Linked DNA regions of Homo sapiens: all the other regions are reported to be linked to region 1. The links are microRNA targets in miRTarBase. Many come from high-throughput screens and were not tested one by one. Region 1 holds a microRNA gene; each other region holds the end of a gene's coding sequence. Distances are between the middles of the regions.
The links. The annotated mature microRNA hsa-miR-6077 reads GGGAAGAGCUGUACGGCCUUC and lies in region 1 at 2,412-2,432, opposite strand. An mRNA with a match to its seed (bases 2 to 7 or 8) in the 3' UTR can be bound and repressed. Matches are read on the target gene's strand: a 7mer-m8 pairs with bases 2 to 8, a 7mer-A1 pairs with bases 2 to 7 and ends in A, and an 8mer does both.

Region 1 (3,846 bases):
GCCCAAGCCCTAGCCCCCTCCCCACCAAACTGTCTTTGAAAAAACCCTTACCTCCAAGCCTTCAGTGAGATTGATTTGAGTAATAACTCTGTCCCCTACATGTCATGGCTAGCCTGTGTCAGTTAAACTCTTTACTGCAATGCCATGGTCTCCGTGAATTGATTTTGTGTGTACAGTGGGCAGGAAGAACCCATCAGGTGGTTACATCTGCAGGATGGTGCCAGTTCTTTCCACAAAGGCTGGTCAGATACCCAGAAAGTATTTCTCCACTACTACCTGGACAATGTGTCTCCCAGTCAGTCTACAGGGAATGGGGTCTGGATCAAGTATTTCACATTCAGCAGTTACTACGCTGTCACCTAATCCCTCATTTTCAATATTTTGCCATGTCTTCCAGTGGCCTAACTGGCCACCATGCCACAGAATCTTTACTTTGTGGTCTCCAAAGAAGAATTCTCCATTTGATGTTTTGTGATTTGAGCAATGGAATAGAATCTGATACTGGTGGGCTGGGGGAGGTCCCCGGACACTGGTAGGATCTCGACCCCAGCTGTGGTGTCCAGGCTCTTGACACCATCTCAAGAATGAGGTCAAGGATGAGTTAGCAAATAGTGAAAGAAGAGATTTATTGCAAAGCAGAAAGTACACACTCAAGAAAGGGGAGTTTGGGCATACCTGAGAGAGAACAATGGGTTCTGGGGTTTCATCTCAATGGGTTTCTTTAACCAAGGAGTGGAATATTGATGAAAATTCCTGGGTAAAGGTGGAGATTTCTCAGAACTGTGGTGCCATCCATTTTTACATCAAATATTGGTCTCAGAACTGTCATGGCACTGGTGGGTGTGTGATTTAGTATGTTAATAAGCGTATAATGAGGGCCTAGGTAAAACCTACGTCAAATCCAGCACCACATTGGGTCCAGTCAGTCTTAGCCAGCTTGGTCCACACCCTGGTTTTTCAGCATCTTATCAGCCCATAGCCTCAAGTCATGTAAATCTGCTGCCTAGAATTTGTTATCCTGTGACCACCCTGTATTATTCCTGTCTCAAATCTACTTGTAAATATTCAAATGGTCTTTGACTTGGGAATTCCAACTTTGCTTACTTCACAGTGTTTCCTGCATTATAATCCCATATAAGAAAAGATGATCCAGACATTTGTTAAGCATCACAAATAAGATGTATCCCAGGTATTTTTGTCAAATTTGGATTATTTTGGTTTTGTCTTTGCAGAATATAAAAAACTAACACGAGGTAAGCAATAAGGTCTGGAGATGGCTGTGCAAAAGATGACAAAGTGCAACACCACATTTGAGAGTGTCCAATCATTTCTTCTGTGGCAGCATATTTTTCCACAATACTGAATTTGGAAAAAAATAAAAATAAAAATAAAAAAAACTACAAGATTCATTAAACTTGACAACTGTTTTTATAACATTACCAGTGATAAAATCAGTAAGGAAGGCTGGTTTGCAGTCATCTGAGAAGCCTCTTTACTTTCATAAATATGGTTTCTCTGTGACATTGAACGGCTTCCAATTTCAAGCGGAATGCTACATTACAAGGATAAGTATGTGAAGAAAACCGGTTTCTTTTGTAGTCCTAAACGTTCTAGTCTGCGAAATAAAAGTCATTATGTGAAGAAGAGTACCCAGGCTCCATCTGGCCACCGAAAGTTTGCTTCACAAGATAGGCTAAGGACCAGCTTCTTTGGGCGAAAACAGATGCCGGGGCGGGAGGGAAAAAGGGAGAGGCAGACGTCACTTCCTCTTGCTGGTTCAGGCAGCGGGTTGGTCGGCTGACTGGCAGAAAGGCAGATGGGGCCTGGGAAAGGCACTGTCGGTGACATCACGGATAGGGCGACTTCTATGTAGATGAGGCAGCGCAGGAGCTGCTGCTTCCCCACCTGCTGCTTCGCCTCGAAGGAGTTCCCGAGCCTTGGGAGCGGGCTCAGGACCGCTGGTCCGGCCGGAGAGTCCCAGCTGTGTGTCAGGGCTAGGAGGGCTGGGGGGTGCGCGGGGCAAGCGACCGTGCGTGTAAAGGGTGAGGCGTACGGGGCGGAGGTGCAGGAGCTCATATTTACTTGGCAGGGGAGATAACATGATCACGAAGGTGGTTTTCCCAGGGCGAGGCTTATCCATTGCACTCCAGATGTGTTGACCCCTGCGATTTCCCCAAATGTGGGAAACTCGATTGCATAATTTGTGGTAGTGGTACTGCGTTCGCGCTTTCCCCTGATTTTTTGTAGTTTCAAGAATACGCTGTACTCTAAGGGCTACTTTTTTCTTTCATTGATTTGTGTCTTGGACGTGTTATTCTTACAGTGGAAGGCTGGGAAATAGGAATTAAGATGTCGCTTCTCCCACTGAGGAGAAATAGGGAGCGTCAGCCTTAACACAAACAAACTAGCGCGAAGGCCGTACAGCTCTTCCCTTTCTACGCAGGGCTGCTTTTTGCAGAGATTGGTCCATGGTCTCCAGTGTCTTGGGTTCTCACGCTCTGTGAAAATCTTCGTGGTTTTCTCTAGCCCCCAGAGTCACCTTTTACACAGCCCCTGCTTCTAACCGCAGCCCCCTCAGGAGTTTGTAGGATTTCTGTGCTAGCGGGGAATGTGTTCTCACCTCATAGAGCCAGGTACAAACTACGCAGACAGGCGCTGTTCTTTGGGATGAAAGCAGGGCCTTTGGGGCTCTTAGTGTCCCCGTTCATTTGCAGACATAACACGCTTACTTTGTGTAGGGGAATGGCTTTCCCGGAGCCCAGGTGCCCTAATGCAATTCGTGGAGGCCCGCAGGTCAGAACCGCAGTCTTACTTGTCTTGGCTGAAATGCGCTGCGATCCTCCCTGAAATATAAGGCAGGAAGTTTTATGAGCAGCGGGGTCCAGTTTCCCTATTATCTCCTGCTGTTTACATATCTAGTCTTTCTTCAGACTTTATTTAAATGACAACTTCTTGTTTGATGTCTCGCTTCCATATCCTACATCCATTGCCAGGCAACTTTTTAGATAGCACCCCGACCCATCCTTCCCACCCCCAAGCAGCCCTTTCCTACTTCTGGCGCCAGTGTCCTTCCCGGTCCGTCTTTCTTCAGGCCCTCCCTTATCACCTTCATGGACAGAAAATACTTAGCTCTCTTTCAACCTGCAGTTTGCACCTGACACGCGTCAGTACCCTGGCAAATTCCTTAATACCCCTTCTCAAATGGCACTGTAAATTCATCTCTTTTTAACTCCCAGAAGTATCTAATTGGTCTTGTCCCTGCATTGCATGAATACTAGTATTCCACTACAAAAGAAAACCCCAGGCCTAGAGATGGCGGTTCTGGGCATTGTGCCAGCATTTCCCAGGGTATGTTTTCTGACCTCACCTACTTCTGATCAACTGAGGTCAGGAGTTCGAGACCAGCCTGACCAACATGACGAAACTCCGTCTCTACTAAAAATACAAAAAAAAAAAAAAAAAAAAAAAAAGCAAAAAAAGCAAAAAAAGCTGGATGTGGTGGTGTGTGTCTGTAATCCTAACTACTGGGGAGGCTGAGGCAGGAAAATCGCTTGAACCCAGGAGGCAGAGGTTGCAGTGAGCTGAGATCATGCCATTGCACCTCAGCCTGAGCGACAGAGCGAGACTCTGTCTCAAAACAAAACAAAACAAAACAACAAAAAAAAACTAGGCCATCTGAGACATATTATTGGAGACAGTAGAATCCTGCATCCAACAGGCACTTGGTGCAGATCTGAACCCACTGAATTATTGGCTCATGTTCCGTCTGTTTTATTAAGTATCATGAGCAGAAATTGAGCTCTTTGGCTTTTACACACTAAGTATGGCTATAGGACAGGTCTCTCT
Region 2 (3,726 bases), 100 Mb from region 1:
AACAGCACATTATAAATCCCAATGCCTTTTTTTTTTTTTTTTTTTTTGAGACAGAGTCTCACTCTGTCACCCTGGCTGGAGTGCAGTGGCACAAAACGGAGTCTCACTCTCTTGCCCAGGCTGCTCACTGCAGCCTCAAACTCCTGTGCTCAAGTGATCCTCCTGCCTCAGCCTCCTGAGTAGCTGGGACCACAGGCACATGCCAGCGCACCCAGCTAATTTTTTTTTTTTTTTTTTTGGTAAAGACCAGGTCTCACTACATTGTCCAAGCTGATCTAGAATTCCTGGGATCAAGTGATCTTCCCACCTTGGCCTCCCAAAGTGTTGAGATTACAGGCGTGAGCCACTGTGCCTAGCCTATTTTCTATTTTCTACATCTTGATGGTGACTATACTATTATATACAATTATCAAAATTTATTAAACAATATATTTAAAATTTATGAACTATATTGTATGTAAAGAATAACTCCATAGAAAAGAAAAAACCTTTCATTTAGAAAGGGCATCATGCTACATTTACTCTTCTGGGATTAAACTTTTTTCACTTAATTATTTTATTGCTCAGATTCATCCATATGGTTAGGTATCATTATAGTTCATTTGACAATTGTATAATGTTCTATTATGTGAATATTCCAGTTTACTTGTCCACTCTCTTGCTCATGGGCATCTGGGTTATTTCTAGGCTTTTGCTTTTGTGAATAGGGTTGCTATGAATATTCTTGTACACATCTCCTGGTGTACATGTATGAGTTTCTCTAGGATTTATCCCCAGTATTGGATTAACTGGGTTATAGGGTAGCTGAATGTTCAATTACAGCAGATAAACTGTTTTCCAAAGTAGTTCTCTGCTTTTCTTATCTAGGTCTGCCTGTCCCCAATTAGATGATGACTCTAGAGGCAGGGGACCCTCTCATTTTGAATTACCACTGCTTAGCATTCAATTAGCACTAGGCTGGATATCCAGGAGTCCAAGGGCAGAAGCCCAGGCACCTGAGGCCTCTTAGCCTCAGCGAATACTAAGTACTATACAGAGTGAACAGCATGCAGGGACCATATGCCACGCACGGAGGCGGTTACGGTCCTACTCAGAGCACTAGCCATGCTCCTTAAAGCTCCATCTTCCTAGCTTCACCTGATTTTGAGTCTCAGAGATCTTCCAGGGCCCTCAATTACAATGCAAATCCCAAAAGAAGGCTTAACCTCAGCTAAAGTCCCTCCTCAACTGACACCTCTAATACCCAAATAAGGATGAGCAGGAAAGACAGAAGGGACAAAAAGAGTGGCAGGAAGAGGAGGAATAAGGAAAGTGGAAAAGCCAAGAAGCCTTCAGGTATTCTAAAATTATATACCCTTTTCTGCACAGGATGTTTTCCAGGAAAAAAAAAAAAAGTTTAAAAATAAAATATCTGCAAGTGACCCTGAGCAATTTTTTATATCCCTGCCACTAAAGGTTACTTTCTTTTGGCTAAAGTTACAAAAACAACATATCGAGTATGCAGTCAGTAAATGATGAAATCTTGCCCTGAACACAGTGTGTGCAGTGAAGCCCTGTGATGCTGAGGGAAGAGTTAGGGATTAGGGGGTGGGCCAAAGAACAGGCACCAGAGCTCAGCTGCAGACTAGAAACAACAAAAAGTCTGGAATCCAACAAAACAAAACATCAGGAAATTCCTAGGTGTTCAGAAAGCAAAAGGAGAGTTACCATTCTAAAGGATGAGGAAGCCCAGTAATCTCCCACAATCCCAACTGCTACATCTCCAAGAGCTCCCTAGCTACCTGTCATACACGAGGTCTGGGAATACCTGCTAGATGAATGAACAAAGAACAAGGCACGCACAAGAGTATGACGGTTTTGTGGCAGAAGCAGCCTCCTAAGCCACATTTGGGCAGCAGTATTGTTGACAGCAGGAATGGCCAGAATTATTCAGCTCAGAGGGTTTTTCCAATGTGAGTAGGTAAGCAGATTATTTTGCACTGGCTTAACATTTTTAGTTACTTGTTCCTTAAATTAGATCATGAGCCATATGGAAAAACCAGGCGGGCTTAATTGAGCCTGTTGGCTGCTCAAGACTGGTCAGGTGGAACTCACTTCAAGGGTGACAGGGGCTCAGTAACTGGCTGGTACAAATGGAACTAATGGCATTTGCACTGACATGAAGTCCCCAACTGCAGCCCCAGGTCTATAGAGTTTCAACAACTTTATTGGCCAAATGCTTCTCCTATGTTTACAACTTAGTGTGAGCCTGCTCACTGGCTTCTCCTTCTAAGCCCCTAAGCGGGCAGCAAACTTTAGTACAGGCCTGGAGATGGGGTAGGGGTTAATGAGTGAGTTGGAAACCTGCTGATGCTCCACAATTGGACAGCAGGACAGCAAATCTTCTACTTCTTATTGCCGAAAACTGCAGAAAGACACGAACAGGATGGAGACAGGACCGAGAGTGCATCTCTGCCACTGGTCCCAGTTTCCAGTTTCTGGTGCATCCAACAGAGTATACCCTTTGTATTCTTGCTTCAGGGATTGGGTGATACTATGTCAGCCTACGCATTTTGCAGAAGTACATGGGGCCAAAATTGGCCATGAGGTTTGGTATTACCAGCTCCCCAACCTGACAGGATGAGAAGAAACAAAATGTGTCCATGAAAACCCTTCGGAAGTGAGTCAGATCTTCCACCTGTACCTGGATGCTGTATTGATTGGCCAGGAGCTCAATGGCACCTTGCACCACATACTCGTTCTGTAAGTGTGAGAGTGAGCAGGTAGAATAGACAACATGGCCTCCTGGTTTGGTGGCAAGGAGTCCAGCCCTGAAACCAGAAAGAGACAGAAGCAGTTACTAGTGAGCTTCCCAGCAGTAGAAGAGCAACATAAGGAGCTGGAAACATGGATAAGGGAAGGCTACTACAGGATGGGTAGCTGGTTAGACTGCCTCTCAAGTCCCTTCCACAATGACACTGTCTGAAAAGTCACTCTCAAGGCAGATAGCAACCCAACCTTACTCCATGAGCTCTTCACTAGGAAGTCTCCTTACAATGACCCCCTGAGCTCTTGTTTATGGACCAAATTGCTATGCTGGCTATAGAATGAGTCCTTACTCTAGCAGCTATTTTTCAAACATGTGCTACTCACTGGTACTGAGGATGAAATAGCATGAGTCAATCTGTGCAGCCCACTCTAGTATATATATCCTACTAGATAGGGTTGCTTTTTTGTTTTTGTTTTTGTTTTTTGAGACAGAGTCTTGCTCTGTTACCCAGGCTGGAGTGCAGTGGCACGATCTCAGCTCACTGCAGCCTCCACCTCCTAGGTTCAAGTGATTCTCCTCCCTCAGCCCCCTGAGTAGCTGGGACTACAGGTGTGCATCTCCACACCCAGCTAATTCAAATAGGGTTTTTATGTTCCAGAGATGATCCCATTTCTGTCTCCTCTAGGCAGATCTCCAGCCATAAGATTCTTGTGTGGGTTATGGTCTTGGTAAGAGCTTCCAGTCCCCCAGTCTCCCAGAGCACTCTGGCACAAAGTCCTGAGTTTAAAAATCTGTCACTCACGCAAGAAGCTGCACTTGCAGCACAGGCAATATCTGTCGCTCCTTCTTCCTTGACCGCTTAAAGATGTTGTTCTCCTCCTCATGAAGGGAGTGGCGGTCTGTGGTACAGGGCACATCCACCAGCACCTACCCAGAGTGTTAAAGGGTAAAGTATTAAAGATCCTTATAGGCTTCTC
Region 3 (3,000 bases), not on the chromosome of region 1:
GGAAGGCGGGGTTTACGAGTTAAGACGGGACAGTAAGAGCTCAGTCCCCACCTCCCTCATGGATCAACCGCCTCCGGTATGAAATCACTTCTCTTAGACCCCAGCCTTCTCTTCCCGAGCACCTCTCAGGTTAAAGGCTCGGGATCAGCCACCTCAGGACCCTGGAGTCCGGACTCAGCCCTACCAGTCTGCGCTCGGTGGTAGAGCACATAGGCCTCCTCGTCCATGACCAGCTCCTCCCCTTCGCGTAGCGGCGGCCCCCGGCCGGGCAGGTAGACCTGGGCCGGGCCCTCGGAACTTGTGTCGCCGGACTCGGCTTCCATGGGTTCCCCGGTTTCACACGTGCGCCGCCGACCCTTGCGCGCCGCCATCTTCGAACCCTCTCGCTGCTGACACCCGGTAAGAGCGTCACTTCCGGGTTTCGCTTTCCGCCTAATGAGATCCGCCCTACTGCGCGGTTACCTTGGAAACTCCTGGGACCGCTAATCGGAGAGGGTGCGGAAACGCTGGAGGAGAACTCAGGTAATGGCGCCAGCGAAAGAAGCCTGCGGATACGGAGAAACTGCATCTTCGCGTGACTTTGGGCGCTGTTCCTCGCGGTAGTGGCAAGGCCTTCTGGGAGTTGTAGTTCTACGGGAGGCTTGTTTTCCCCATTGTCCAGTTTGATTCCGAGAGCGTTCTTTCCAGTTAATTAATTATTCATATATGCAAATTTGCTCTTTCACTGGCAAGGAGACTGAGTTTCTACTCCCCGAGGACCCATAAGGCCGGTTTCTTTTCCTCTCTCTGTTGTGATGGCTTTCATTTGTTTCAAAAATGCTTTCTTGTAGACAGGATGGATATTATCTGTAAGTTAGGCGGTTCAATCTACCCTCTAGGGGCAGTCAATTGCCTAACCAGACATTCACATTTCAGCTCTGGTCAGCGAGCACTTAATCAGAAAGTCCACCCTCTGGAGGCAGCTATTACAAGTGCTTCGTCTCTCTTTATCGCCCATCAGCACCAGCGGTTTGGCTAATTGACATAATGAAATGTTAGAAATAGATTCTCATTGGTGAGATTAACAGCATTCAAGATAATGCGGATTGGCTGGGATATGTCAGACACTCTCCTAGCTTGCATGAACAGGATATTGAGAATGTAGCAAGCCTTGGTACCTATAGCCATAGGAAATAAAACCATACCTTTGATCTTAATATGTTTTGTCTCCGGGATCTATCTCACCACTCTCTTGGGGTCTCTTATCTGCCCCAGTACCCTCTCGACTTTCTTTTCAGGGTCTCTTCCCACCTCCTCTTTCTTGGTCTTTGTCTCCCCAGGCACCTCCTTTCAGAGTCTCTGTTCTCTCTCTAATTCTGTCTCCTCTTCCCCTGTGGGACTTTTGTGTTTCTGTTTCCTCCAGAGAATTTGAGGGGGGCTAACAGATACGGAGCTTAGGCTTGGACTGAGGAGGCATAAAAACATGGTTTATTCCAAACACTGCAATGTGGAATAAGAGAGTGGGAAGGGAAGTTGGTGGAGAAGTGTGGACTCCCAGACCCTCCCCTCCGCAACCCAGCCCCAGACCCGGCTGGAGATCTGGGCAGAGGAGGCTTTTTGGAGGTCTGCTGGGTCATCACTGAAGGGTCGCAAATAAGGGTTGGATTTGGAGAGGATGTGCTTGGTGGCAAGTGGGGTGGTCCGGAGGTGCGGCAGGGTGGGAAGTTTTGGCTTCAGGGAGGTTGGGTTCATCGCGGTGCAAGGGAAGGCGGGGCTTCCGTTGGGGACGTGTCCTAGGTCAGAGTAGGGAAAAGCGACCGAGGGTGGAAGAGGAGGAGGGGGTGTCACGGTTTGATGTCAAGGGTCACAGTCTGGTCGGGGCACAGTCTGGGGTTCGGGTCACAGTTTGGGGTCAGGGGTCACAGTCTGGAGTCGGATGACCATTTTAGGAGTCGGATGTCACAGTCTGGGTCAGGGGTTTCTGTGTGGCGGGGCCAAGGTCTGGGGTCACAGTTTGGCGAACGCGTCTCACAGTTTTGAGTCCCAATGGATGAAAGGTTAAAAACGGGCTTCCCCGGAGGCGCGGCTGGGGCCGGGGAGCTGCACAGTGATGTGGGGGCCACGGCCCCGGGCGTGGAGGTGGGACGCGGGAGTGGCGTGAACCCCCCACCTCCCGCCCCATCTGGTGACGTTAAAAAGCCCTTGTCGGGTTTAAAAAAAAGTCCGGTGGGCTCCAAGGCCCCCGCCCCCTCGTTCTCAGGCTGGGTGATAGTTGAGGGACCAAATCCTCTCCGGCTTGCGGTTCCTCCAGAACCAGGGGGCGCAGGACGCTGCTCCAGGCGGGGTCCGGCCAGTTCCACTGCTTTCCTTCCCAACCCACGCGGGTCCTGTCCACTGCGGGCGCCCCCTCGGGCCGTGGCCTGCGCTGACCAAGGGGGCGGTGGGGCCCCCGGGGCCGCGTCATACCTCGGACTCGAGGCTAGAGAAGTGCGCCGAGCCCCTGCGGGTGCCCAGGTCCCCGCCCCGGTGTCTCCGGTGGGAAGCTGTGGGCAGCGGCGGCCCCCAGTGCGCGGCGTGCGGACACCTGCGAGCGTGGCGGGAGGGCCCGGTAAGCCTGCGCGCAGGGGCGGCGCGAGGGCACGAGCTGAGGTCCTCGAGCGAGCGCGAGGTGGGCGCGGGCGGCGGGAGGTCCCAGCCCCCAGCGGCGCGCCGGTGCCTGTGGTGGTGGGGCGCGGCGGCGGCGGGCGTGCGGTGCGAGGCCCGCGGGCGGTGCGGGTGCGACCGCGGGCACCCGCAGCGGGCCCGGCGTCGGGGCAGGGGCCCGGCGGCCCAGGGTGGAGGCGGTGGCGCCCACCAGCCGCCGTCCAGGCCATCGTGCGAGCAGCTGAGATGGCGCGGCGGCGGCAGCAGCTCCAGGCTGGCGCAGTGCCGACAGTGCCAGGCGGCCGGACCGCTGCGCGGGGGCAGGTAGTCCCAGCTCCCGGCGCGCCAGCCCCCGAGCTTGTCGACCGACCAGTAGCG
Region 4 (3,846 bases), not on the chromosome of region 1:
TGTGTTTTAAAGCTTTTTCAGGACAGAGCTAGAGTAGTCTTTATTCTAGGCCTATTTTAGCAAACACCTTCAGCATGACCATTCTATCAACTGTATTAAATGCTCTGATTGTTCAATGAGGTCTCTTCAGTGTGGTTGTTGGACTATAAACATCTCCCAGCCCTCCGTGAGCTCTGGTTTTTTGCCTGGCCTGTGGACTTTTATTCTGTACATGCACATGTTAGTATTATTCGGCCACAAATTCAGAGAGACTTATGTGCAGATTATTAGGGTTCTTTCTATACATAGCTCTCTCGCGCGCCCACTCTATCTCCCCTCTCCATTCAGGGAAACCACTGTGCTTTCTTGTGCTGCCCCTCCCTACACTGCTGTCCAAAAATCGCTGCCAGCCAGAAAACTAGGAAAAATGTAGGATTCCTCCTTTTTGTTTCTCTGTTCTCAGACATCATGGTTCCTTTCTGCCTGTTTTCTAATGTCTGTAGACTGTCATTTCATAGACTGTGTCCAGTATTTTAGTTACTTTTGGCTGGAAGACAAGTTACTCCTGTTTTTCCTGTTACTCCTTCATGGACAAAAACAGACATCTTACTTCATTTTTGTTATCTTTGTTGTTTTGGAGGTTGTGTTTTATATGGGAGAGGGCTGTGTCTGACGGAGCTGTAGTGAAGTGGGGACAGTGTTGGAGGGACTCCCAAGCCCTGTCTAACCTCTCGTGCTTCTCCTTTCTCCGTCAGGCGTCATTGCTGTGGTGATTTTCACCATCCTGTGCACCCTGGTCTTCCTGATCCGGTACATGTTCCGCCACAAGGGCACCTACCATACCAACGAAGCAAAGGGGGCGGAGTCGGCAGAGAGCGCGGACGCCGCCATCATGAACAACGACCCCAACTTCACAGAGACCATTGATGAAAGCAAAAAGGAATGGCTCATTTGAGGGGTGGCTACTTGGCTATGGGATAGGGAGGAGGGAATTACTAGGGAGGAGAGAAAGGGACAAAAGCACCCTGCTTCATACTCTTGAGCACATCCTTAAAATATCAGCACAAGTTGGGGGAGGCAGGCAATGGAATATAATGGAATATTCTTGAGACTGATCACAAAAAAAAAAACCTTTTTAATATTTCTTTATAGCTGAGTTTTCCCTTCTGTATCAAAACAAAATAATACAAAAAATGCTTTTAGAGTTTAAGCAATGGTTGAAATTTGTAGGTACTATCTGTCTTATTTTGTGTGTGTTTAGAGGTGTTCTAAAGACCCGTGGTAACAGGGCAAGTTTTCTACGTTTTTAAGAGCCCTTAGAACGTGGGTATTTTTTTTCTTGAGAAAAGCTAATGCACCTACAGATGGCCCCCAACATTCTCTTCCTTTTGCTTCTAGTCAACCTTAATGGGCTGTTACAGAAACTAGTTCGTGTTTATATACTATTTCCTTTGATGTCCTATAAGTCGGAAAAGAAAGGGGCAAAGAGAACCTATTATTTGCCAGTTTTTAAGCAGAGCTCAATCTATGCCAGCTCTCTGGCATCTGGGGTTCCTGACTGATACCAGCAGTTGAAGGAAGAGAGTGCATGGCACCTGGTGTGTAACGACACAATCAGCACAACTGGAGAGAGGCATTAAAGAACCAGGGAAGGTAGTTTGATTTTTCATTGAATTCTACAAGCTAATATTGTTCCACGTATGTAGTCTTAGACCAATAGCTGTAACTATCAGCTGCAATACCATGGTGACCAGCTGTTACAAAAGATTTTTTCCTGTTTTATCTGAAACATACTGGATTTATATATGTATAAGCGCCTCAATGGGGAATTAGAGCCAGATGTTATGATTTGTTTGCTCTTTTTCTTTTATAGTTTAGTTATAGCAAAAATATGGATAATTTCTAGTGAATGCATAAATTAGGTTGCGTTTCTTATTTTGCTTTAAATCTCTGGTAGTTTTTCCACCCCTGTGACACAATCCTAATAGACAGTGTCCTGTAAATGGACACAACACAATAAAGTCAAGTTATTATTGCTGTTACTCTGGATGATATGGAAAACACTGCCATATTTTAAATCAACTACTCCACGTGTTTTTCCATCCAATCACACTGCTGTGATTCAGGGATCTTTCTTCTAAGACGGACACATTTGAACCTCAGGTTCATCACAAACCTGGTACCTGTTGCTTCCCAGAGGATGGAGAAGTGTAGTTAATCACACCTCTTAGTTTAATCTGAAATCTTGACCCAGTTATTTAACAAATAAATACCTCATTGATTATATTTAAAAGTAATACACTTCCTGTAAACAAATGGGGACAATGCATCCAAAAAATCTTTTTAAACAGATTACACAAAAATTATTTCCAGAAAGGCTACCATTTATCATCATTATATTTCAAGCCTCTTATACTTAATAAGCACTTTCTAAAAAGTCTTGAGATCCCACCATTCTGAGGAATTCAATATGATCACTTTTTCCTTCTTTGCCTGGGAGAGGTTAAGAGGAGGTTTCGAAGGTATAGATGCTATTGTTCTGATGGCCCGGCTGAATAAAATGGAAATTCTAGTTTGTTAGAATTATGCATTCTTTTTCAAGATTCTCAGTGTGCCTAACTTATTGGAGCACATCAGTTTCTTGGGTAATGGAAAACATTACCTAGAGTTGCCAGTGGCACATTACACCAGTACAGAGCACATTCCAAAGGAGACATTGGACCAGTTAATTCCCATACAAGTCAAGGTAACAGAACAAAAGGGAATCCTGATGCCCTTTTACCATTGCTGGTTGAGCTCAGGCACTGTCATGGACACCCTTAATTTTAAAAGGTTTTAATCATTCTTCTATAAAATACATTTAAAATGGAAAAATACTTAATATCACTAAATATCAGAACAATGTAACATTTACAAATGACATATTGAAAGCAAAGGCTGTTTTATTTAGCCAAGATGATTACCATTAGGAGTTACTTTATGTATTGTTGAAAGCAAATTTTAAACATGATGTTTTAGAAGTGTTTCTGATTTTTAAACCTGGTTTACAGGTATTACTTCTGCACTTACCAAATAATGCCAGATGGAAATTTATTATTTCTTGCAATTCCCATGATAGCTCTGTTCTTTATGCATTGTCTCAACACTTTCCCTTTTTTCCCAAAATGAGTAGAGAATTAAAGCCACCCAAAACAGCTTCTGCTACTAAAATGTTCTCATCCTTTCTCCTCCCTCTCCTTTTCCTGCCACAAAAGGTGAAAAATGAGATCCAATCCTCTCACCAAAATTTCAAACCTAGGACACTGGAATGACTGCAGGGATCAGTGGTTCTCCCATATCACCATCAATTAAGACATATAGGACACTGTCTTCCTTCAAGAGGGTTACAATGTGGCCATCAGACAGGAAACCAAACGGTGGATAAAGTATTAAGTAACTAAGTGCCAAATAAATGCTGGAAATCTTGACCTCTCCTTGGGATTATGGGTGTAACAAAAATCCCTACATCTGTTTATGAAGGCCATATTCAGTACATTTTAAATGGTAAATAATCTGTTTATGTGAAGAAAAAGAATTAAGTCTTTCTTCCAACTCTCTCCTTGGATAGCCTAGCACAGTGCAGCCTCCATAACCATGACATTCCCGCCCAAGCTCTCAGTGCCTAATCCTGCTTTGTCATTCACATCTCACAAAATCTTGACATCTTACATTCCAATACATTATCAAGCAAGCACAAGTATGCTGGTAGTAGCCTCTTTAAATAATATGTATAGACAACAACAACGACAAAAAATAGACTGTTTTAAAGTTTCAGGGAAAGTTGGTGGCTGATTTAAAGTTGTGCAGGAAACATCTTCTGTGTATGAA
Region 5 (3,691 bases), not on the chromosome of region 1:
TCTTTTCCTCTCTGAAGACTGACACAGCTCCCAGATAACCCCTCCCCACTTTGAGGACTTGATGCTGTAGATGGTTTTAATGAAGCCATGGCCTTCTCTGGCAATACTGTAGGCCATCGGTGCTCGGAACTTGCTCAAATCTATAGCAAAGCAGAGAGAAGCTCAACAGCAGCAACTTCAAGCCCTAATAGCAGAAAAGAAAATGCAGCTAGAAAGGTAAGAAGTCATGATGTAAAGCAAGTTCTTTACACAGCTGAATTTCCACTCTTCCTTCTGGAATGATCACTTCTTGTCCTTATTCTTCATCATTGTTTTCCCAGGAATAGCATCTCACTTGTCATCCTGATTTGAAGATTTTAAAAAATAAAATTACATTTGATGGGAAGGAAATAGAAAACTTGTTAATATCAAACCACCTCTAGTAGTTTGAGCATGAAAGGGTCCACGAAGTTGGCTGGCTCTCTGAAAGAAGACTTTCCTAGGGCTGGAGATTTCTCATGGGTGGCTCTGGGTAGGGCTTTGCCTCTTTCTTTCTTCATTCTGAACTCACACCATTTCTTGAAATCATTTAAACCTCTATATCCTTCTCTAGAAGAATTAGGTCTGTGGTTTACTTCATCTTTTTTTCAGGGCCTCTAACAATTTTGTTTTTCAGGTATCGGGTTGAATATGAAGCTTTGTGTAAAGTAGAAGCAGAACAAAATGAATTTATTGACCAATTTATTTTTCAGAAATGAACTGAAAATTTCGCTTTTATAGTAGGAAGGCAAAACAAAAAAAAGCCTCTCAAAACCAAAAAAACCTCTGTAGCATTCCAGCGGCTTGACCAATGACCTATGTCACAAGAGGTGGCGTGTAAGGAATGCAGCCCCCTGAAGACAGCACTACAAGTCTGGGGGAGCCAGTTTTAACATCAGTGCACAGCTGCTGCTGGTGGCCCTGCAGTGTACGTTCTCACCTCTTATGCTTAGTTGGAACTAAGCAGTTTGTAAACTTTCATCCTTTTTTTTGTAAATTCACAAAGCTTTGGAAGGAGAAGCAATAAATTTTTGTTTTCAAATGGCTTGATGTACCTTTTTTCCTGTTGCTCTTGAAATATGTTTAACTCCTCATGAGAGAACCCTGGATTCTCTATCCCCTAGTCCACAAAACAAACCAGGCAGTGGTCAGCAGCTACCTTTATTTGGATCACACACGTGAGTCAGACAGTACCACTAATCGGGCCAATATGGCTTGTGAGCAAAATGGGTGAAAATAGAGGGAACTGACTGGGACCTGTTGTCTAACATCATTTTAAGGTTGAACTTGAGCAAAGACTTAGAGAAAGCTGATGGAATGCCAAGCATCAACGTGAAGAGACCCTCTATGCACACAGTGGATATGTTATGCCTGGCTGTAGCCACCTTCTCTTCTGAAAACAAGATGGGAATGACGGAACTGTATTAAAAGATTAAGTTATCCACTAGGGAGCATACTAGCACACTTCCAGATCAGCCTTGAGATGCTAGACTTCAGATACAGGGACTTGTGTCAGGTGGCCTCTAGAAATGTGGAAGACTAAGATTTAGAAATAAACTAATTTAAAAGCAAACAAACAAAAAAAACTTTCGCCTAGGATGATCTGTTTACAACAGAAACAAAAACATTTTCCAGTTTAATCCATTTGACTGAAAGTCATTGTTGGGCTGACCCTTAAGGAAAACTTAAGTTTAAACTTCCTTTGCATAGTATGTTTTCTCTTTTTTCCTTGGGTTAGAGGTGGGAACAAGAAAACATTGATATAGTTTTGAATTAACATTAAAGAGGCAAAATTTCACATTTAAAATGGCCCAAAATATCCCACTATTCATTTTGCTGACAGGTGATACACTCTTGAGAATCAGGAGTGGAGGGTTTAGTCATAAGCATATATGCTGTGGGTCAGGTGACTCATGAACATGTCAAACAGGCCATGTTCTTTAGCAGTTTCTGGTCTGGTCCTGCTTTTAGTAATCTTGCGGTGGAACTCAGGCACACAGTTATTTGGTACCACTTCCTTATAACCTAGCCCACACCCCTTTGCCCACCCTCAAGCCGATCGGTCTGTTCATCCCAGTGCCCTTAGAAGGTGAAGGTTTGGGCTGGGCCCAGTGGTTCACGTCTGTAATCCCAGCACTTAGGGAGACTGAGGTGGGCAGATCACTTGAGCCTAGGCGTTCGAGACCAACCTGGGCAACATGGCAAAACCCTGTCTCCACACACACAAAAAAAACAAAACAAATTAGCCATACGTGTTGGTACACACCTGTAGTTCTAGCTACTTGGGAGGCTAAGGAAGATGGCTTGAGCCCAGGAGGCGGAGGTTGCAGTGAGCCGAGATCATGCCACTGCCCTTTACTCCAGCCTGGGCAACAGAGTGAGACTGTCTTAAAAAAAAAAAAAAAATGGAAGAAGGTGAGGGTTTGACATGGTTCCTGACACCATCTTGCTCTTGTGCATTGCTGCCAGTGTTTCAAATGCTGCTGAAGACGTGGGTTCTGAGCAGTGTTCCTTGTATTGTATCCAACAAGCAACCACCCTGTAGGCATCTCTACCCTGGGCCAGTGGTTGTTTCCTTCATTTTTTTTTTCTTTTCTCTTCATACTTGTAGTAGGGGCTCCGCAACATGAAAATTAAAAGTATGAATGGGATGAGTAAGTAGGGGGCATAGACAGACACAAGGGTTAACCGTTCATGCAAAGTCTCAGGTCTTTGTCCCTTGAAACCACTGGCTTTGGAGAAATCCTCAAACAGAAATGTGGAGAGTATCGGAATTAAGGTTGTCATGGTGTGAACAGAGTAGATGATTGCAGGAGTTCGAATCCACTTGCAGCTTCCTGAGGTAGTCAGGGGAAAAGAAAAATGGTTAGGTCTGTTCATGACTCAAAGGTGTCCATGACCTTCCCACTGTCTCTGCCTGCCTGCTTTCTTCTACTCCCTTCTCCAAGTGGAAACTCGGAACTGGAAACCTGGATGTGCCACACTGCCCAACATGCAGACTTACGTGACAGCTCACCGACAGCTCGCCAAAGAACCAAGAATGGGGGTCAGAACATAACTCGGAAAAGCTCTAGGGCAATAAAACTGCCATTACCGGTTAAACCTGTGTGGTACAAAATCCAAGGGGAGGGAAATCCCTGCCCCATGGCATCTGTTTGTTCAGTAATTATATATAGGTGAGAGGATCAGAAGGCAGATTCAGTGACCCCAGGGGGTGCCAATGGGAAACGAGCATTTTCAGTGGTTTTAGCTTATCAAGTACACGTGTATGGTCACCTTTTTAAAAAAGCATTGATTATATGAGAACACTAAGAATAATTTTAAAATGAGAAGCACATTAGGGATTAGCCTGATGCTACAGCTTATAAGTCAGTATGATACTATCCAACGCAGAGAAATAAAAGCCAACAAAAAGAGAAATTAATTCTGTTGGGGAACAAAACAAAAGGGAACAAGCTCATTGTTTAAGTGGTCTCAGGCTTCATGTGTATGCAAGGGATTTCCAGACGACTGAGGCAGCCGTGCAGGCCTGCTGACCACAGACATGAGCCTGAGCCACACTAATGTCCCTTTACAAGATCTACCCTGGCTATTTACCCCAGATCCTGTAGCATTCTCCCACAAACTATGGGGACCATCCCCTTCCCTTTGGAGATACTTTCCCAAAAGATTT
Region 6 (3,846 bases), not on the chromosome of region 1:
CCCCTAGCCTAGGGCCTGATTATTTTCTTAGGATTAATTCCACAGGAAGTCCGTCTCCTGTGTTTTGCTACGCATCTTGTGTGGCTTTATGTAGTGTTCTCCAAAGTTGCCTTGGACTTAGAAGCGTACCTTTGCTGGAAAATCAAGGAAAATGTGGGGAAGAAAGCTGTGCCTAGAACATTCTTTCATAGCCTTAAAATGTAGACCGGAACGGTGGTACCATGAGCTAGCTCAGACTCACAGCCAAGCTTGGTTGGAGCCTCGGAGTGCTGTTAAAAAAAAAAAAATGGAAAGGTTTACGTGACAATAGGGGTTTCTCATTTCTTCAGGTGGCACCAGTTAGAGGCAGATCCAATGAGCCAGTCACAGTTGCCAATCAGATCCCTCCTGCCCTCACACCTGGCTCCCCTTCCTGGCCTGTGGTCATTTGCTTTTCATCCCCAGACTTAACCCGATTCTCTCCCTGCTCTTTCAGCGACATCACCCCGCCCGGAGAGCCTGTGAACAGCCGGCCCAAAGCAGCTTCCCGCTTCCCCAAACTGTCCCGGGGTCAGCCCCGGGAGACCCGCAACGTGGAGCCCCAGAGCGGTGACCTCTGACCTCGACAAAACCGCAGCCACGGGCCCTGTGCGTGGCACCAGCTGCGTCCACCCCAGCCACTGCCGCTGGCCCCTCACCTCAGCGTGACAACCACGTCCACCTGGTGATCCTGAGAGCACACGATTCCCAACAGTTACACAACACCCCGATTAAACTAATCAGTCTTCGAGCCGCATGATACCGTGACCCGAGAGACCAAGGCAGCACCTCGCTGGAGAGACTGGGACACACAGTCCTTCTGCTTCTGGGGTCTACCCTGGGCTGCAAGGGCTGTTCCTCCACCTTTCTGTAGTTCAGGGCTGGCAGGAGGGTGGGCACCAGGTCAGGCTGGGTGCGCCATGGTTGAGAGGCAAAGGTGATCCCCTATATAGGAAGGTTCATGCAGAGCCAGCCTCTCCACTCTTTCCCACGTGGGGACTAGAATGACTATTAGCCTCTCCTTTTGCTTTTTAAGGTTATTACCTGGCCTAACCTAGGGATGGCTGGCTTTGCGGGGGGGGGGGGGGGGGGGGGCATGGTTCCTTTCACTGCATTTTCCACCAACAGTCATTAGACACCTGGCACTGTCACAGCTCACTTTTCCAGAGGGATATTCCTGTGGCTTTGGCAAGGAGCCATTAGTGATGTGCAACTTGAGTTCAGAGAACTTCCCCTACCTCCCCCATGGCTGGCTTCAGGAAGGACCAGTGCCCTCCATAGCCTGAGGCCACCTAGGCCCTCGCCAGGCTTGGAGTGGGGGGACTCAGACATCTGGCCCAGCCATCAGCAGCAACCTAGTAACCCGGCGTCATCCAGCGTGTCCAAAGTAGCATTGGCCCTACAGTCATGAGAGACTTGGGTCAGGGAACCACTGCAGAAGGTTCCAGGGTTTTCAAACCAGGCTCCATGACTATGAAGTTGGACCCAGTGTGGACACTTAACAGATCATGTGTCTCTCCACTAAAAACATTTTCCATCCCGTCTGCCCCCGACATTGTCCTTGATAACAGAACTCTGCATCCCCTAAGACAGAGTCCTCTGTTCCTCCCATGTCAGGTGGCTCTCAGAGTACAGGGACCTTGGCAGGTGGAGAGGAGGATGGGGACCAGCAGCTGGGCAGCCCCCAGGGCTCCTCCTCCAGTGAGCTCACATCAGAGCACCTCACAGAGCAATAGCCGTCCTCAGATGCTCAGCAAAGTTGTGGCAGTTTGCATTTCTAGGGTAAACTAACTAGGAAGGATGTCGTGAAATGGACTATGCAAGAGTAAGTTTGTGTGTTTCGCCTTAATCTGAGGCAGAGACACAGCAGAACCTGAGGAGAAAAGCAGGTGGAAGGTGACGGTTAGATGGTAAGCCATGGGCTTGTCCTGGAACTGCTTCAACTCAGTGGCTTAAAATGAGAACTGCCCAGGTGAGCATGGAGCATCTCCTAGGCTCGAGGACATCTCTGGAGAATCATCTGGAAGGTTTATACTGTGCCTTCCCCTCGTAGCAAAAAGGAAGATTGTTCATGGCCTTTAAGGAAGGCTGAGATCACTCACACACAGCGCCCCCCCACCCCAGAGAAACCGAGTCAGCCTACATGACTTCCAAGGGGACCTGGGGCCAGATAAGCCCTGCCCCGGTGAGACCAAATGAGCTGGAGCATGTATGGAGGTGCGGACCCTGCAGTCAGTTTGCGAGTGTGGAGGACCCGAGACATCCTGTAAAGGCAACTTGGTCTCCCTCCCACTCACCTGCCAACATTGCTGCAATACACATGGTTTATCTGAAATTCCAAGGCCAGAGTGCACATCAGCTCACATGACTGGCAACTCTAAATAGAGAGCCCTAATGGACTGAGGCAGGAAACGTCTAAAAGCTCAATCTGCTGTATGTCATGACCCCTTAGGTTGGGTTTATGCCACATCGGTCATTTTGAAGTAGGTGTTTGATGCCAGCTCAGAGACTGTCTCAGGAGTGCCTCCCTGGCCTGGGTAGCTACCCTGGAGGTCATCTCCCTGTTCTCTGTTGGATAAAGGAACCTCCCCCATCTGTGACATTCCCTTGGGCCCAGGCTTATGACCTGCACCTTTTCTGACACCTGCCCCCAAAGCACAGGATGTGAATTGGTCTCTCTCCAGATACCCCACGAGGAAGCACCTTGGACATTCTGCACATGATAATAATGCAACAGTCCCCCATTGCTGAGAGATACTAACCCGTGAGAAACAAGTATGCTCTCAGCTGGTATTGAACTGGTGGGAGAAACTGCCTCCTACTTTTATAATACTGAATTATTCACAAAAAACCTGGTCTGCTCTCCAAAATGAGAGCATGTTCCTGGGAGCCACATGGGGACCATCCCCAGCTGCCTGCTCCTGGTACCTCCCCCATGATCATGCACAGACCGTAGAGTCGAGTCATCTCGCAGATCCAGACCATCTCCTCTCATTCTCACTCTAAAAATGCTGGTGGCCCGCACATGACAGCAACTCCCCGAAGCCTTCCCTTTGGAATCCCATAGAATGTTCTGCAATGATTGGGTCCATCTTGCTGCTCAGAAGAATCCCGTCCTGCTCTCTAGTGTGGTGGGATGAACTTCAGGCAACAAACAACTGGCAGGGTTCCCAGTTCCTGGAGTTATGGAGCAGAAACACCCAGGCCTAGCAGAATTGTGGCTGAAACCTGGTGCCCAAATTCCACACCCTGGAAATGTGTCAACTGCCTGTCAGCCTGGATTCAATTCTGAGGGCTAAGCCACGACCTTATCCATGAGTGGCGAAGACACCCCTGAGGAAAGGATTGCTTGCACCTCACATCTGTCTTCTTCTAAGATTACTCGGAGATTTTCAAACAACATCTGAGAACAGAAGCCCCCTCCCCTACTCAGAGAGGAACGAGGGTGGCCCACCTCTCAAGGGCCTTGGATTCCTGGGACCACCCTTTGCTGGGAGGAAGAATCCACACCGAATCCTTCTGTCTTCATGGCCTGCTGTGCTGAAACAGAACAGCAGGTTCCATCTTTCACATCTTTTTTTCTCCCCCAGATGAAAGACGACTCAGGAACGGTAGGGCTGGGCAGAGGTGTCTCTCCTTGAGAGACAACAAAAGCTTCTAAGGGAGGGAGCTTAAAGGCTGCTAGAAACCTAGCCCAACCATCCACTCCTGATCTGAGACAGAACCTTCTCCGCCACTCTTCCTGCAATCAGTGTGAAATTCCAGCTTCTTTGATTCCCACTTAGCAGTATGCTCCAATCACGTTGCTGGCAAGGCATTTTAGAGTTT

Region 2: miRTarBase lists NSUN4 as a target of hsa-miR-6077. Seed matches in the 3' UTR shown: 7mer-m8 at 1,567-1,573 and 7mer-m8 at 1,291-1,297.
Region 3: the mRNA of GRIN2D is a reported target of hsa-miR-6077. Seed matches in the 3' UTR shown: 8mer at 1,804-1,811.
Region 4: miRTarBase lists CNTNAP2 as a target of hsa-miR-6077. Seed matches in the 3' UTR shown: 7mer-m8 at 1,359-1,365 and 7mer-A1 at 3,563-3,569.
Region 5: the mRNA of TMEM97 is a reported target of hsa-miR-6077. Seed matches in the 3' UTR shown: 7mer-A1 at 2,425-2,431 and 7mer-A1 at 1,551-1,557.
Region 6: the mRNA of SNX29 is a reported target of hsa-miR-6077. Seed matches in the 3' UTR shown: 7mer-m8 at 3,755-3,761.

The regions. Positions count from the first base shown.
Region 1 is chr1:148,386,880-148,390,725 of GRCh38, reverse strand. MIR6077 (microRNA 6077) reads right to left here and starts at 2,444; the gene lies at 2,363-2,444. It also overlaps the pseudogene RNVU1-2. RefSeq lists an enhancer at 2,302-3,141.
Region 2 is chr1:46,360,654-46,364,379 of GRCh38, reverse strand. NSUN4 (NOP2/Sun RNA methyltransferase 4) reads right to left here. Exons shown (of 6, transcript NM_199044.4): 5 at 3,552-3,676; 6 at 1-2,810. The coding sequence ends at 2,534. Among named protein-coding and RNA genes, the nearest start is that of NSUN4, 22 kb to the right of the region's middle.
Region 3 is chr19:48,443,377-48,446,376 of GRCh38, reverse strand. GRIN2D (glutamate ionotropic receptor NMDA type subunit 2D) reads right to left here. Exons shown (of 14, transcript NM_000836.4): 14 at 1,446-3,000. The coding sequence ends at 2,440. It overlaps GRWD1 (glutamate rich WD repeat containing 1), which reads right to left and starts at 394. Exons shown (of 7, transcript NM_031485.4): 1 at 185-394. The coding sequence starts at 371. RefSeq lists enhancers at 314-403, 564-643, 1,816-2,507.
Region 4 is chr7:148,414,683-148,418,528 of GRCh38, forward strand. CNTNAP2 (contactin associated protein 2) reads left to right here. Exons shown (of 24, transcript NM_014141.6): 24 at 735-3,846. The coding sequence ends at 934. All of the region lies in intron 1 of LOC105375554 (a long non-coding RNA gene), which reads right to left. Among named protein-coding and RNA genes, the nearest start is that of C7orf33, 170 kb to the right of the region's middle.
Region 5 is chr17:28,325,698-28,329,388 of GRCh38, reverse strand. It overlaps TMEM97 (transmembrane protein 97), which reads right to left. Exons shown (of 3, transcript NM_014573.3): 3 at 704-2,855. The coding sequence ends at 2,596. IFT20 (intraflagellar transport 20) reads left to right here. Exons shown (of 5, transcript NM_001267776.2): 4 at 113-216; 5 at 656-1,063. The coding sequence ends at 737. Among named protein-coding and RNA genes, the nearest start is that of IFT20, 7.9 kb to the left of the region's middle. RefSeq lists an enhancer at 2,171-2,220.
Region 6 is chr16:12,568,031-12,571,876 of GRCh38, forward strand. SNX29 (sorting nexin 29) reads left to right here. Exons shown (of 21, transcript NM_032167.5): 21 at 476-3,846. The coding sequence ends at 599. SNX29-AS3 (SNX29 antisense RNA 3) reads right to left here. Exons shown (of 4, transcript XR_007064988.1): 2 at 130-269. Among named protein-coding and RNA genes, the nearest start is that of SNX29-AS3, 41 kb to the right of the region's middle.